4 linked regions of the Homo sapiens genome follow. The protein of the gene in region 2 interacts with the protein of the main gene of each other region in a pairwise test. Each region holds a gene or a part of one and is shown on either strand. Other genes may lie near its edges.

Region 1 (3,500 bases), on a different chromosome or scaffold from region 2:
CGCCCAAGAAACCTACATGTCCAGCCGAGAAGAACTTGCTCTATGAGTTCCTTGGGGCCACCAAGAACCCAAGCGGGCAGCCGAGACTTCGAAACAAAGTGGAAGTGGATGGGCCGGAGCTGAAATGTGAGCTGACCTACCCAGGGAGGGATTGGAGGGGAGGGGGTTGCAGTGACCCTCACAGGCTTCAGGGTGGCTCTGTCACCAAGTGGCTGTCTTATCTACTGCCTTTCTAGAGGTGTCAGTTTTTAAACCCATAAAATGGGGGCAATGACTTTCTCCCCATATCCCTTGTTGGGAATACAGTTGCTAGAGAAGTGTAGTTGGCTTTCAAGGGTCACGTCAGCATTATTAATGGTCACTTCTGAATATAGCCCTGACCCAGCATGTATTATATCCTCTCAAATTGCCCAAGCCAAAACAAAAGATCCTTGCTTTAGATTATTTCTATATTGAGATTATGTTCCCGCTTTCTTTTCCTACAAGGGTTCTAGTCAAACCTCTTTTCCCAAAAGGATGCCAATAAGGGGAAACTGAGGACCCATTTCTGATTTTATAAGCCCCCACAACATCTTGTAGAAAGGAAGAATCCAGGATTCTGATCTTGAAACAACTCAACCTAACTTCATTTGTTTAGACCAATTTTGAGTCACTGCATGCTGAATTATTTAATGTTTTAAAATATAATTTTTAAAATTCCCATATAGATACAACAACCTGTGAAAGTTTCTTAGTGTTGCCAAATATATGTCCTTAGGGAGGGGCTGCTTTAATCATTTGATAAGGATGAATTCCAATGGCATAGCAATGGTTCACATAAAGTTGGATTTTTCCAAAGCAGTTGAAAGAATTTCATTTTGTAAGTAGGTGAAATATAGGCCTAGCAATCTGGCTTATTGTATTCCCTTGCTAAATTGCCTTCTTTACTAGTGAATGATGGAAAGAAAAGCTCCAAGCCAGACCTTCTGGGATTTTCATCCCTTCCAAACTGGCAAGGTGTGAACTAATGATGTTTACCTATAGTTGGAAATGTACTAGAACTTTGAAGAACCCTCTTGGAGCTTAAAGGACCTGACCTGTGAGACTGTGAATCCCTAAGGAAGTTGCGATGCTGAAGGTGTCCTGGCCTCTCCCTGCCTCCATCACTGACCCGCTTTGCCTCTCCTGTGACTTGCAGTTAACGCACCTGTGACGGTTGCTGACAAGAACAACCCGAAGTACACAGGGAATGTTTTCACTCCACACTTTCCTACAGCCATGACCTCAGCAACCCTGAACCAGCCACTCTGGCTCAACCTGAACTATCCACCTCCACCAGTGTTCACGAATCACTCTACCTTCTTGCAGTATCAGGTCAGTGAGCTGGCCTGGCTCTCCTGTGGACATCCACGGGGGTTTTGGCCACAGAGAAGGAGTGGCTGGCAGGGGGTCTATTTCACAGAGTCTTTAGACTCCTCTGAATCCCTTCCCTACATGCAAGAGGCTTCGCTGGGGCTATGGAAGGGCGCTGTCAACTTGTCAGCTTGTTGGTTATTTTTTTCATTGTAGTCACATCAGATCTACCCCTTGGTTCATGTGCATGCGTGCGCACACCTCCACACACACACACATATGTATATTTAGTCCTAACTTTCCATTGTCCGAATTCCAGTTCACACTGTGCTCTTTATTGCAGAGTCTCTTTGCTAGTTGTGGCTGGTTAAGTGCTTGGGCTCCCAGGAGAAGATGATGTCACAGTCCTTGTTTCCCACCTCTCTCCTGTGACTTCCTTTGAAGTTGGATGACATATATCCCAGATTATTTGGGACAGTCCCAATTTAGGTCTTCTGTTCCAGAATAATATGAATGGCATCCCTTTTCACTCTCAAGTGTCCTGGTTTGGACAACAAATTACAGTCAGCCCTCTGTATCCATGGGTTCCAAATCCACAGATTCAACCAATCTTGGATGGAAACTACTTGAAGAAGAAAACAACAACAACAACAACAAAATACAACAACAAAAAATAATGCGAGTAAAAGATAATACAGTATAATAACTATTTACATAGTACATTATTAGGCGTTGTTAGTAATCTAGAGATTAAAGGATACAGGAGCATGCGCATAAGCTACATGCAAATACTATGCCATTTTATATTAGGGACTTGAGCATCCTCATATGCCATTTTATATCAGGCACTTGAACATCTTTATATGTCATTGTATATCAGGGACTAGATCATCCTCATATGCCATTTTATTTTATTTGAGACAGAGTCTCACTCTATCGCCCAGGCTGGAGTGCAGTGGCATGACCTTGGCTCACTGCAACCTCTGCATCCCAGGTTGAAGCGATTCTCCTACCTCAGCCTCCCAAGTAGCTGGGATTACTGGTATGTGCGCTAATTTTTGTATTTTTAGTAGAGACTGGGTTTCACCATGTTGGCCAGGCTGGTCTTGAACTCCCCGCCTCATGTGATCCACCTGCTTCCACCTCCCAAAGAGCTGGGAGTACAGGGGTGAGCCACCGCACCCGGCCCTCAAATGCCATTTTATATCAGAGACTTGAGCATCTTTGTATGTCATTTTATATCAGGGACTTGAGCATCCTCAGATTTTGGTATCCACAGGGCAGGGGAGGGAGGGTGGTCTTGGAACCAATCCTCTGAGGATACCGTGGAATGAGTGTATATGGCCACCTTACTTAAACTACACCAAGCAGTCTTAGCTTTGTACCAACCAAGGTGGCTTGGCACACATTCTTGTTCTTGGGATCATAGCTAAAGGAGAAAATCAATGGCCAGACACAAAGGGACAGTGAAGCACCTGTAGCAGGGCTGGAAATTCTACTCACAGAACTTATTTATGCAGGGAAAATGTAGTTTCTTTATTTTGTCGATTTAACTTAATATCCCTTAAGAGCTGCCGCCCACTGGGTAGAAGGAGGGAAAAATTAAATAAATGTCCACTCTGGTTTAAGCCTTAGCCCAATCCAATAACTTAAATAGTCCCTTTAGGTAGAACTCAATTTTTTCAGGAAAGATTCTCCATGCCTAAGATTTCTGTCTTCTGTTCCTCGCACTGGCTTCTCTCCAGAATTGTATGTCATTGTATGGGGAAGGGCAGGAACTCAAATTTGTGCACTCAGGACCTTGGCAATTTGCTGCCCCAGCCTGGCCCAGCACAGCCTGAAGTGAGAAAGCAAAGAAGGAAATACTTCCAACTCGGCTTGTCCTGTTGCTATGTCCCTTCCCCGCTCTCCACTCCTAGGAACCCTATGTCATTCTTTCCCTTTCAACACAGCACAAACCTTATGTCCTATTGGGAAAGGGGATTGGCTCTTCTGCATATAAAGACTCTTCAAGCTGGTCCACCAGGCTTAGTTTCTGAATCTTAAAGGAACTTAGCAAAGTCTCTCTCTGTTTTGTTTTCAAGCTTTTTGTTTGTGTGTGTGTTTGCTAAAGAGAACAAGTACCCGTCCCCTCCCGAGGGAGGGAAAGCTCACACCCCATTGTGGAG
Region 2 (3,500 bases):
ATCATTTTCATTAGCTACTCTTGTCACCCCCAAAAACAAACAATATAAATAAAAATAATGGACCCTACAAAGAATATTGCTTCAGGCCAAGTTCCAGAGACCCCCTTCATACAACACAATAACTCCCTAATTAACATCTATGTAGATATTCTGCTGCCACCAGGACATGCAGATCAAAAACTGGGGTAATATGGGAAGTTTGTGCACAAATAGTTTTGTTTAAAAACCCATGTCTGAAACTAAAAAACCTGCTTAATGAAAATAAGATAAAGCTGGCAGAGTAGACGCCTTTTATTTGTGGCGTTGATTCCTGCGGTTTCAGTTACCAATGGTCAACCAGGTTCCAAAAATATTAAATGGAAAATTCTAGAAATAAACCATTCATAAATTTTAAATTTATTCTGAGTAGCATGATGAAATCTTGCACAGTCCTGCTGTGTTCTGCCTGGCACATATATCATTCCTTTGTCCAGTGTATCCACGCTGTAGATGTTATCCATAGTATACAGACCCAGAGTCACATCTTGGTTATCAGATTGACTTACAGTATCACAGTGCTTGCATTGAAGTAACTTATTTTACTTAATTATGTCTCCAAAGCACAAGAGTAGTAATGCTGGGAATTTGGATATGTCAAGGAAAGACCAAAGAGAGGCCATAAGGTCTTCCTTTCCATGTAAAGGTGAAGGTTTTTTACTTAATAATAAAAAAATTCCTATGCTAAGGTTACTAAGATCTATAGTAAAATTAATATGTCCATGAAATTGTAAAGAAGAAAAGAAAAATTTGTGCATAGTATATACAGGATTTGGTACAATCTGTGGTTTCAGGTATCCACTGAGGGCTTGGAAAGTATCCCCTGAGGATAAGAGGGAGACTACTTTATTGGAGATTCCATAGAACCTTCTGAATCTTTTTTGTTGTTGTTTATAGAAAAAGGAAGTGCTGAAATACATTATAAAGAAGAAACTTCCCAATTTAATACTTACCTCCCCAGGTCAACAGCCAAGTATTTCCTCGAGTTCTGTCATTTCTCTTTTCAATTCTGTATATTGACAGGGACCCTGATAATCTTGTGTGCTGAAAACTATTTGTATAATATTATAACATTGGTGTATAGAAGTCAATACAGTTGGATCAGGAAAATTTGGATTTTACAAAAGCCAAAATTTATCCTAAATTATTATTTGGACAAAATTTTGACAAAATGCAAAACTCATTCAGGTGAAGTGCTAGAGTAAACATCTACATTATTTCAGAAGATAATAAAATGTTTGTAGCTTATCAAGTTTAGAAAGTCTCATTTCTATACTTGGTGATAAATACAGAAGTTGTTCTTGGGAATCTAACATCTTCTACAGTCAATTCTCTTTTCAAATTGTATAGCTTTGTTTATTTAAATATTAAAAACTTGTTTCTTAATTTCTTTTATGATTCTGACAGAGGTTAATTTAACGTATTTTATGAGTTTTCCCTTTTAGGAATATTTAGAGTTAAAGAAATAAGTGAAAAAATAAACAAAACACAGGTTTGGACCCAGGCAAACCTGGTTTTTTAATTCTGTCCTACTCTCTAGTAACTCAAAAACTTTGATAAAATTTCTAACCTCTTGCTGCTTGAATTTTATCATCTATAAAATAGTATTATCAATACCTACCTTACCAGATTGTTAGGAGAATTTTTAATGAGATAAGGGTCACAATGTGCCTAATATTTTTGACATAAAGGGCCGTCCCAATGGATGAAAGCTATGTGGCTGTTATTAGCTTAAATACCTTCTTATGTGTGAATGCAAGACATAGAGCCAATCTTTTTCCTCTATCTACCCTAGTCTTTTTGAGATCTCACATGAAGATTACATGAATCTTTATCAAGGTTCCCAAGAATCCTAAAACATCCAAATTAGCACGATTATATTATTTTCAGAGTCTTGGCTTTACCAGTGACTTTACCAATTTGTCAAAGAACTACCCCTTAACAGACACATATTATTGAGTTCCAGGAAGGGACACAATAATATTGAAATTAGGCCAGTTAATAATCCTGTGATGGCCTCTGAGTGTTCAAGTGAAAGAAACAATTGCACATCTCTCACTGTAAATAAGAAAGCTGGAAATGATTTAGCTTAATGAGGAAGGCATGTTGAAAGTTGAGATAGGCCAAAAGCTAGTCTTCTAGCACCAGTTAGCCAAGCTGTGAATGCAAAGGAAAAGTTCTTGAAGGAAATTGAAAGTGATATTACTCCAATGAACATATGAATGGTGAAAAGTAAAAGAGCCTAATTGCTGATATGGAGAAAGTTTTAGTGGTCTAGAAAGAAGATCAAACCAGTCACAACATTTCCTTAAGCCAAAGCATAATTCAGAGCAAAGCCCTATCTCTCCTAAATTCTATGTAGGCTGAGAAAGGTGAGGAAGCTACAGAAAAAAAAAGTTTGAAGCTGGCAGAGGTTGGCTCACAAGGCTTAAGGGGGGAAAAAAGGCACTTTTGTAACATAGAAGTGCAAGGTGAAGCAGCAAGTCCTGATGTAGAAGCTGCAGTAAGTTTTTCAGAAGATCCTAACTATAACAAGATCATTGATGAAGGTGACTCTGCTAAACAACAGATTTTGAATATAGATGCAACAGCCTTCTGTTGGAAGAAGATGCCTTCTAGGACTTTCATAGCTAAAAAGTAGAAGTCAACGCCTGACGTGAAAACTTCAAAGGACAGACTGACTTCCCTGTTAGGGTCTCTTGCAAAACATTACTACTCACTGACAACACATCTGGTCACCCAAGAGCTCTGATGGAGACGTATAAGGAGATTAATGTTGTTTTAATGCCTGCTAACACAACATCCATTCTGCAGCCCATGGGTCAAAGTATAATTTCAATTTACAAGTCTTATTGTTAAAAAAATGAATTTCGTTAGGCTATAGTTGCCATAGATGGTGTCATTTCTCAGACAGATCTGGGCAAAATAAATTGAAAACCATGTGGAAAGGATTCACCATTCTAGATGCCAATAAGGACATTCATGATTCATGGGAAGAGGTCAAAATATCAGCATTAACAGGTGTTTGGGAGAAGCTGATTGCCACTTTTATGATGATTTTGAAGGGTTCAAGATTTCAGTGGAGGAAGTAATTTCAGATATGATGGAAACAGCAAGAGAACTAGAATTTGAAGTGGAACCTGCAGATGTGACTGAATTACTGTAACTCATGATACAACTTTAACAGATGAGCACTTGCTTCTTATGTATAAGCAAAGAAAGTGCTTCCTTGAGATGAAATTTACTCCTGGTGAGAATTCTGTGAACATTGTTGAAATGACAAAGGTTTTAGAATACTACACAAATATAATTGATAAAGCAGTGGCAGTTTTTAGGTGGATTGACTCCAATTTTGAAGGAAGTTCTACTGTGGTAAAGTACTAAAAAGAACATCATGTGCTACAAGGAAATCTTTCATGCAGAGAAGAGTCAGTCAATTGATATGGCAAACTTCATTATCTTTT
Region 3 (3,500 bases), on a different chromosome or scaffold from region 2:
TCTCCTATTGATCATTTTTATGACTTTTTAGGGAGTTTGTTTGAAGACCCTTTCTTTAAAATTGTATATTTCTAGCACTAAATACTTGTCAAATCTATAGGATTTCCCACGAGATTTATCAAATGAACCCATTTTGATCCCTCCTCTCTGCTTCTCACTGAGTTTTGCTCTGTACTGTGTATTCCTGTGTGCACCTAATGGGTTTATTAACCAAATTAGCATGTACCCAATGTTCCCTTCTGTTCTGCAAGATATTGGCATTTTGACAACAAACGTGAAGTGATGAGACAGATGGGGCAGAATTATATTGAACTCTTTGCATTTTATTTTTCAGGCTATCTCATTCATCAAGCAACTCTACTTTGTGAAACATAAAATGATACAAACAAAGTCATTATCAAATGTATTTATTGCTGAAAACATAACATTTTTCAAGAAAGGCAAACTGGCTAAAAAGTCCTGAAAGTGTTCAAAAGTAGATAAAATAGCAGAAGACACCCACCAAGGATACAAAACAATTTTTAGTAGCGATCCTGCATTTAATCAGTATGTTCTTAAATAAACTGCTTTAAAAAAATTCTTCAAATGACACTGCCAAAAAAATTAGGACACCCAAACAGATGCCAGAAAACCTGTAAGTGGGCTGGATTTTATGTGACCTGGTCATTAAGCATAGGGATTCATTTTGTGAGCTCATGGCAAATCAGTTTGAGGCCAGTTGACCTAGAACCGATTTGGGATGCAGGCACTTACCTCCCTGCACGTGCAATATGTGGGCATGGGGACACCCATGACCCCCAGGGGAAAGGAATGCCCCTCCTGAACATGACCTCCAAGAGTAAGGGCGAACTGTCAGCTTTTAACTGTTTATTATAAAGACATATTTACACAGAACAATCTTTACAAACATTGAACACAGGGGAAGGGAACAATTTCTTAATGAACAGGGCCTTAATATCTTTGTATAAATTAGTATAAGAATCATAAACAACCACTTTAAATAAGGCAGCCCCCCTAGCCCACCCACTACCCTCTTCTGTTCCCTATCTCCCAGCTTTCTTAGCCATCCCCCACTTTCTCCCCTTCCCCACGGGGCTGGGCTTGGCTGCAGGTCATGGCAGGCCGATGAGGCAGGAGACACAGAAAGGAAGGGGGAAAGAAGGCCCAATCCCTGATGGGGGCGTCAGTGGCAGAAGAGACTTTCTGGGCACCGACCAGTCCCCACTCCAAGCATGAGCCTTTAAGCAGCAGCAGCAGCAGCAGCAGCGTTAGCAGCAGCATAGGTAAAGGGGCTTGGGGGAGGTGGATAGGCAAACATTGGGGCTATTGTGGGACTTGGGGGGCCCTGACTCCCCCGTCCCCACACACACAAAGTTGGGCATCAGGCTCTTGTCTTCTCTTTCTCCCTCCTGGGAACCCTGCTCAAGCAAAAGGGGAGAAAGCCCCCTCCAAGGAATGGCTGGTGATGGCCCCTCACGGAAGCTAGGGCCTCCCGGGGAGAGGGTGCTATTCCTGCTGCACTTCCTCCCATCTTTCTTTCCTTCCTTCTGTTCCTTTGCTTTCTTTTCTTCCCTCCTTCCTTCTGCCCTTCCCTTCCTTCTTCTCCCCTCTCCGCCTCCCCCAAAGGAAAAGCCCTGGAAGGAAGGTCCGGTCAACACGAAGGGAAGGCCATGGAGTCCAGTGATTGAAGGCTACCTCGGACTCCTGAAAACCACCCTGGGGTTGAGCGGTAGTCTCAGTGCCTGAGCCGCCCCTATTAGAGTACCCTGGGTCTGGGAATGCTGCCAGTTATGGGGGCAGCTGGCCAGTTATGGAACCTTCCAGCCCAGCTGGGGGAATGGTGCAGCAGGGGTAGGTCAGGGAGGTGGGAGCAGCTCCAGCCCCACAACAGGACAGTTCACAGCCAGCTTGCCTCTCCCTTCCCTTCCCCTCCCAGCCACCCCCAGCCCCAGCCTCGGGAAAAGGCACTTCATTTGCTTTGAAAAGACATCATCAAGAGGGAAGAGGGCGTCATAAAGTAGGAGATGGGAGACCTGGTCCCCATCCCGGCTCTGCAATGACTCTGAGCAGGTCACTCCCCTCTCCAGGCTTCTGTTTTGCAGGCGTTTGCCTAAGAAGGCTAAGTGACCTTCAAGGGTCCTGTCAGCTCTAACATTCTGTGATTCTTGGCAAAAACAACCTCTTGCTTGGCTTTTACTCCTGGGAGGGTATATAGCCATGTCAGGCCCAGCACCCTCCCCTCCTGACCTGGAGCTTGGGCTAGCTGGGGATGGGGTGTGGGGGCAGGAAGAAGGGAGTATTGGGAGGCACACTAAGGCAAGAGAAGTGACAAAGGACTTCACGGGCCCCTCTCTACCTCTCCCTTAACTGAGCAAACGCTGATGCTCCACCCACTTCACCAGAGCTCCTGAAAACCACCCTGGCACTTCCATGCCCCCAATGTGCCCTGTCTGGATCCCCGCAGCCAGCACCTCTTAACTAGAGTCTCTCCTTGCTTTTCTCTGCATTCTTCCCTGGAGGCCAGGTGAGGGGTCCAACTGACAGGAAAACAAGGGATCTGCTGGAGCCCACAGAAGGGAGCACTTCCACCCCGCGCTCAGGGCAGACATGAGGAAGGAAGGCCCAAATGAAGGTTTGGGGCGTTAGATGAGACAGGCAGGGACTAGGGCGGAGGGGACCTGGAGAAGAAGGGAGGCTTTCTGGGGCTAGGTCTCCAAAGTCAGTCCAGGGAGGGGCCAGGAAGATGGACTGGACGGATTCTTGTGAGAGAACGGGAATCATCCAAACTACAGCCAGGAGCACGCCACTGGGGGAAGCAGGCAGGTGAGAAGAGCTGGGCCCACTGGTGGCTACAGCAGGTGCGAGGTGAGAGCTGAATGGACGTGAGGCCTCCAGAGAAGCAGACCAATCTATGGAGGAGACATAACCGCCGGGGGTGGGCACTTGGGGGCCCCTTCAGTCCTAAGGAGACAAAAATGACAAGAGAGAAGTCATGGACATATCCTAGGCCAAAGGAACTCCCCAGGAAAGGAGAGGAGAGAGGAGACCGCCTTCTCTTTCCCCCAAACTCCACTCAGCCCAAACCTCAATCCCAAGGCCCCTGAGTTGGTGCCTGCCTGTCCCCACTGCAGTGGGACAGCCAGCAGACCAGGGAAGGGGCAGGCTTCAGCTCTCCTCTCTCTGCTGCCACCTTGGTTCTTCCCTCCTTCTCACAGCTCCGGGCAACCACAGCCACAACTGTCCTCTTGTTCTCTGCCTGAGAGCCCCTAGAGCTCTCTGCCTCCTTCCCCAACTCTGGCGACAATCTACACTGGACATCTGTAGGTTTGCCCTGGGCACCCCTCCCCAGCCATTAAGGTCCACCAGGATGTCTAGAAATCTCTAAGCAGGCCAGCCTCCCCAACCCCAGGCAGCAGGGTGGAAGGGAGACTGGCCCCAAGTATCAAGCCCCTCTCTAGGCCTCAGACGAGGAGATCGTCTGTAAAATAAAGGGGCTAGAC
Region 4 (3,500 bases), on a different chromosome or scaffold from region 2:
GTACTAGAGGAAGGAGAAAAAACCCCATTTCAAAAAGCTAAGCTTTCAAAGCTCCTGGCATTGATCTGCCATAATAAATGTGAGATAGGAGAGAATCCTGGTTCTAAATTTAGAGAAATTCCATAAGATAAGGAGGTTGTAGAGACTGTGAAGAATTGAAGGGGATGGGGAAGGGGGGAAGAGAGTAGTAAACAGAGCTGTGAAGAGGAGAGTCTGACTTTTTGCTGTGAACTCTGGGCATTTAGCACTTTATTTTATTCATTCATTCATTCAACCAGCCAACAAATTCATTTCAATTAAAATTTATTCAACATCTTCTATATACTGTTCTTGAGATGAGCACTCATTATGGGTGGCAAGTATTTAATTTCTTTGTCTCCACCAAAATAGGCAAATATCAGAGGAAGGAAACAACTTCCTTTTAAGTAGAATTTATGATCCCAAAGTACACGCCAAAAGAGTTTGGCTGTTTAAAAGCCACCCACACACTAAATGATCACTTGTAAAGTTCTTGGTCAGTTCTACAAAATTCTACATCTAATTGCTAAAGAGCCCACTTCATGAAGTCTTGAAGGGCTCCCCCTCTCAAAAAACTCCTTGACTGGCTTCCAAACAGGAAAGGTCCTCACATTCCTAGATACAAGCTTTTGCAAGAGCCGCACAGGCTCTGTCTCCAAAGAGAAGCCCTCAGATGGGCTGCCAAACCTGACAAACGAGTCACTGGTTCCCAGCTCCCCCAGGATCCCAGAGAGGAGAGAGGGGCCTCCACAGGGAGAGGAGCAGCACAGAGAGGATCAGGGTGAGTGGCTGCAGGCCCTGTTATCAGAAAGAGAGAAAAGCCAGAGCCCTCTGCAGAAACCAGAGCCTGACTCTCCCTCCCAGGTACAGGACATCCCAATCAATGTTGAAGTGACACTCATCAGAGCCAGGCTGATGCATGCAACATACACCCCTCTAAGAGTTTCTAATTTTTTCAATTCATTTAATTAACTGCAGCTATCTGGACAAAAATCAGAATAGTGACATCCTTTTCTTCAAGGGGCTTGCCTATAGAGGCTTATCAAAATGAAAATGAAAATGGAAATGAAGAATTAGGGTGACTCTTATAGGGGTCACAAAGTTCTCTTTGTCATCTTCCTCAGGACCACATGTCCTCTAGAGCTCTAGGATCATTGGGTCTGGCCTCCAGTGTTTGCTGTGAACACTAACCTCCATTCCTTAGTGTAGTTCTTCATCTCCCACTGCCTGTAGGACACTGTCACATGGGGGACTGTCCCTCATTTATTTTACTGCACTAAATCCTACAGATCCTGCCAAAAATTCAAAGACAAATGCTGAGTGCTATCACATCCCTAATACTATATCCTTCCTGATACTCTTCAGCAAAACGTCAGCATTTCTAATTTCCATATATGGTTCAGCATTAACCAATTTCCATATATGTCTCTATTCTCTTCATCTTCACAGTGATATCTCAGACTCAGTCTGAACTCTCTTGGATGGGCTGTAGACCACCCCTCTTCTAAACCTTGTCTCCAGAAGTCAAAAAGCTACAATAAAGTCCTGCTTTTACCTCTCATTTTCTCTGTGAAATCCAACCACCTCCATCAATGACTATCAACCTTTGAACCAAGTCAACATGTCTCAGTCTCCACCCAGATGGAGGCCTCCATTGGGCAGTGTCTTAATTTGTCTTCTGTTGTTTACAACAAAATACTTGAAATTGGGTAATTCACAAAGAAAAGGAATTTACTTCTTACAATTATGGAGGCTGAGAAGTCCAAAGTTGAGAGGTCACATCTGGTGAGGGCCTTCTGGCTAGTGGTGACTGCAGAGTGCCAGGGTACTTACGGTATCACATGGCGACAAAGCTGAGTGTGCTAATGTGCTAGCTCAGGTCTCAATTCCTCTTCTTATAAAGCAACCAGGCCCACTCCATGATAATCCAGTAATCCATGAATGAATAAATTAATCCATTCCTGAGGGCAGAGCCCTCATGACCCAGTCACCTTTCAAAGGCCCCACCTCTCAATACTGTCACATTGAGGATTAAGTTTCAACATGATTTTCAGAGGGGACAAATATTCAACCATAGCGGGCAACCTTGCACTCATCTGTCTTATGTTACTGCCTGTGACTCCTTCATCCATTTCTCTGGCCCCTTTGCTAATAGGTTGCTCTCTCAACCTTCTCCTGGGTCATGTTTTTGCTCAGAACAATCTCTCTTGATACCTCATTCTCAATATCCATTCTTTTTAGCCCTTTCAACCTGACTTAAATTCCAGATAAACAAAACATTCCCCACATTACAGAGATCTATATAACTCAGCTGTCTCTAACCCCATCCCTAAAATGACAAAAACAAAACACTCCTCTTTCCCCACAAAAAGCACAGCTAAACATTAGTCCTCTATGTCTCCCATCAATAAGTATTTCAAAGGTCTACACCATAACTTTTTTGCTCTGTGAACTACCTATGAGAGTTCAAGAAATCTCAGATTAACTGAATTGACAAACACTATTTGTTCACATTTTTTTTTCAGATACAATTACACCTTGACATTCCTGCAATATCAGGTGCAACATCTGGTCACACCTGACAGGAATATCCATGGAGAAAAAGGGCACCAACTGCAATTGTTTTTAATGGCAAAGATGCCATTGCTTTGAATCTTCCAGTTTCCAGTAACTTTGCAATATAAAGTTAGTAAGCCAAACTTTAAGAACGCCATGTAGAACTCAGTCCTTCAAGCAAATTAGATTACTGTTTGCCAAAGTCTATCTCCAAAGAACTATTAAAACAAGAACTCAAGTCCCAGAGCTCTTTAAAATATTGGAAGAAACTTCAATGTGGGTAATTGAAAGAACATCCCCTATCCAAACAGAATCCTCCTTTCTTTTTTTTTTTTTTTCCCCTTTCTTTTTTATTTATTTATTTATTTATTTATTTATTTTTTATTATACTCTAAGTTTTAGGGTACATGTGCACATTGTGCAGGTTAGTTACATATGTATACATGTGCCATGCTGGTGCGCTGCACCCACTAACGTGTCATCTAGCATTAGGTATATCTCCCAATGCTATCCCTCCCCCCTCCCCCAACCCCACCACAGTCCCCAGAGTGTGATATTCCCCTTCCTGTGTCCATGTGATCTCATTGTTCAATTCCCACCTATGAGTGAGAATATGCAGTGTTTGGTTTTTTGTTCTTGCGATAGTTTACTGAGAATGATGGTTTCCAATTTCATCCATGTCCCTACAAAGGACATGAACTCATCATTTTTTAAGGCTGCATAGTATTCCATGGTGTATATGTGCCACATTTTCTTAATCCAGTCTATCATTGTTGGACATTTGGGTTGGTTCCAAGTCTTTGCTATTGTGAATAGTGCCGCAATAAACATACGTGTGCATGTGTCTTTATAGCAGCATGATTTATAGTCCTTTGGGTATATACCCAGTAATGGGATGGCTGGGTCAAATGGTATTTCTAGTTTTC

Evidence for each region. The genes of interacting proteins can lie anywhere in the genome.
Region 1: the proteins of PLSCR4 (region 2) and C1orf94 interact in a two-hybrid assay, tested with the Homo sapiens proteins (one large-scale study listed by IntAct).
Region 3: the proteins of PLSCR4 (region 2) and APLN interact in a two-hybrid assay, tested with the Homo sapiens proteins (one large-scale study listed by BioGRID).
Region 4: the proteins of PLSCR4 (region 2) and NID2 interact in a two-hybrid assay, tested with the Homo sapiens proteins (one large-scale study listed by BioGRID).

Annotation. Positions count from the first base shown.
Region 1 is NC_000001.11:34,200,907-34,204,406, forward strand, and holds part of C1orf94 (uncharacterized protein C1orf94), read left to right. Parts: coding exon 1-126; intron 127-1,177; coding exon 1,178-1,353; intron 1,354-3,500.
Region 2 is NC_000003.12:146,202,606-146,206,105, reverse strand, and holds part of PLSCR4 (phospholipid scramblase 4), read left to right. Parts: intron 1-3,500. UniProt on the Homo sapiens protein: Catalyzes metal ion-induced ATP-independent rapid bidirectional and non-specific movement of phospholipids (lipid scrambling or lipid flip-flop) between the inner and outer leaflet of the plasma membrane and participates in the redistribution of phospholipids between membrane leaflets.
Region 3 is NC_000023.11:129,644,957-129,648,456, forward strand, and holds the end of APLN (apelin preproprotein), read right to left. Parts: intron 2,962-3,500; 3' UTR 303-2,961; downstream 1-302. UniProt on the Homo sapiens protein: Peptide hormone that functions as endogenous ligand for the G-protein-coupled apelin receptor (APLNR/APJ), that plays a role in cadiovascular homeostasis. Functions as a balanced agonist activating both G(i) protein pathway and beta-arrestin pathway of APLNR.
Region 4 is NC_000014.9:52,062,560-52,066,059, forward strand, and holds part of NID2 (nidogen-2 precursor), read right to left. Parts: intron 1-3,500.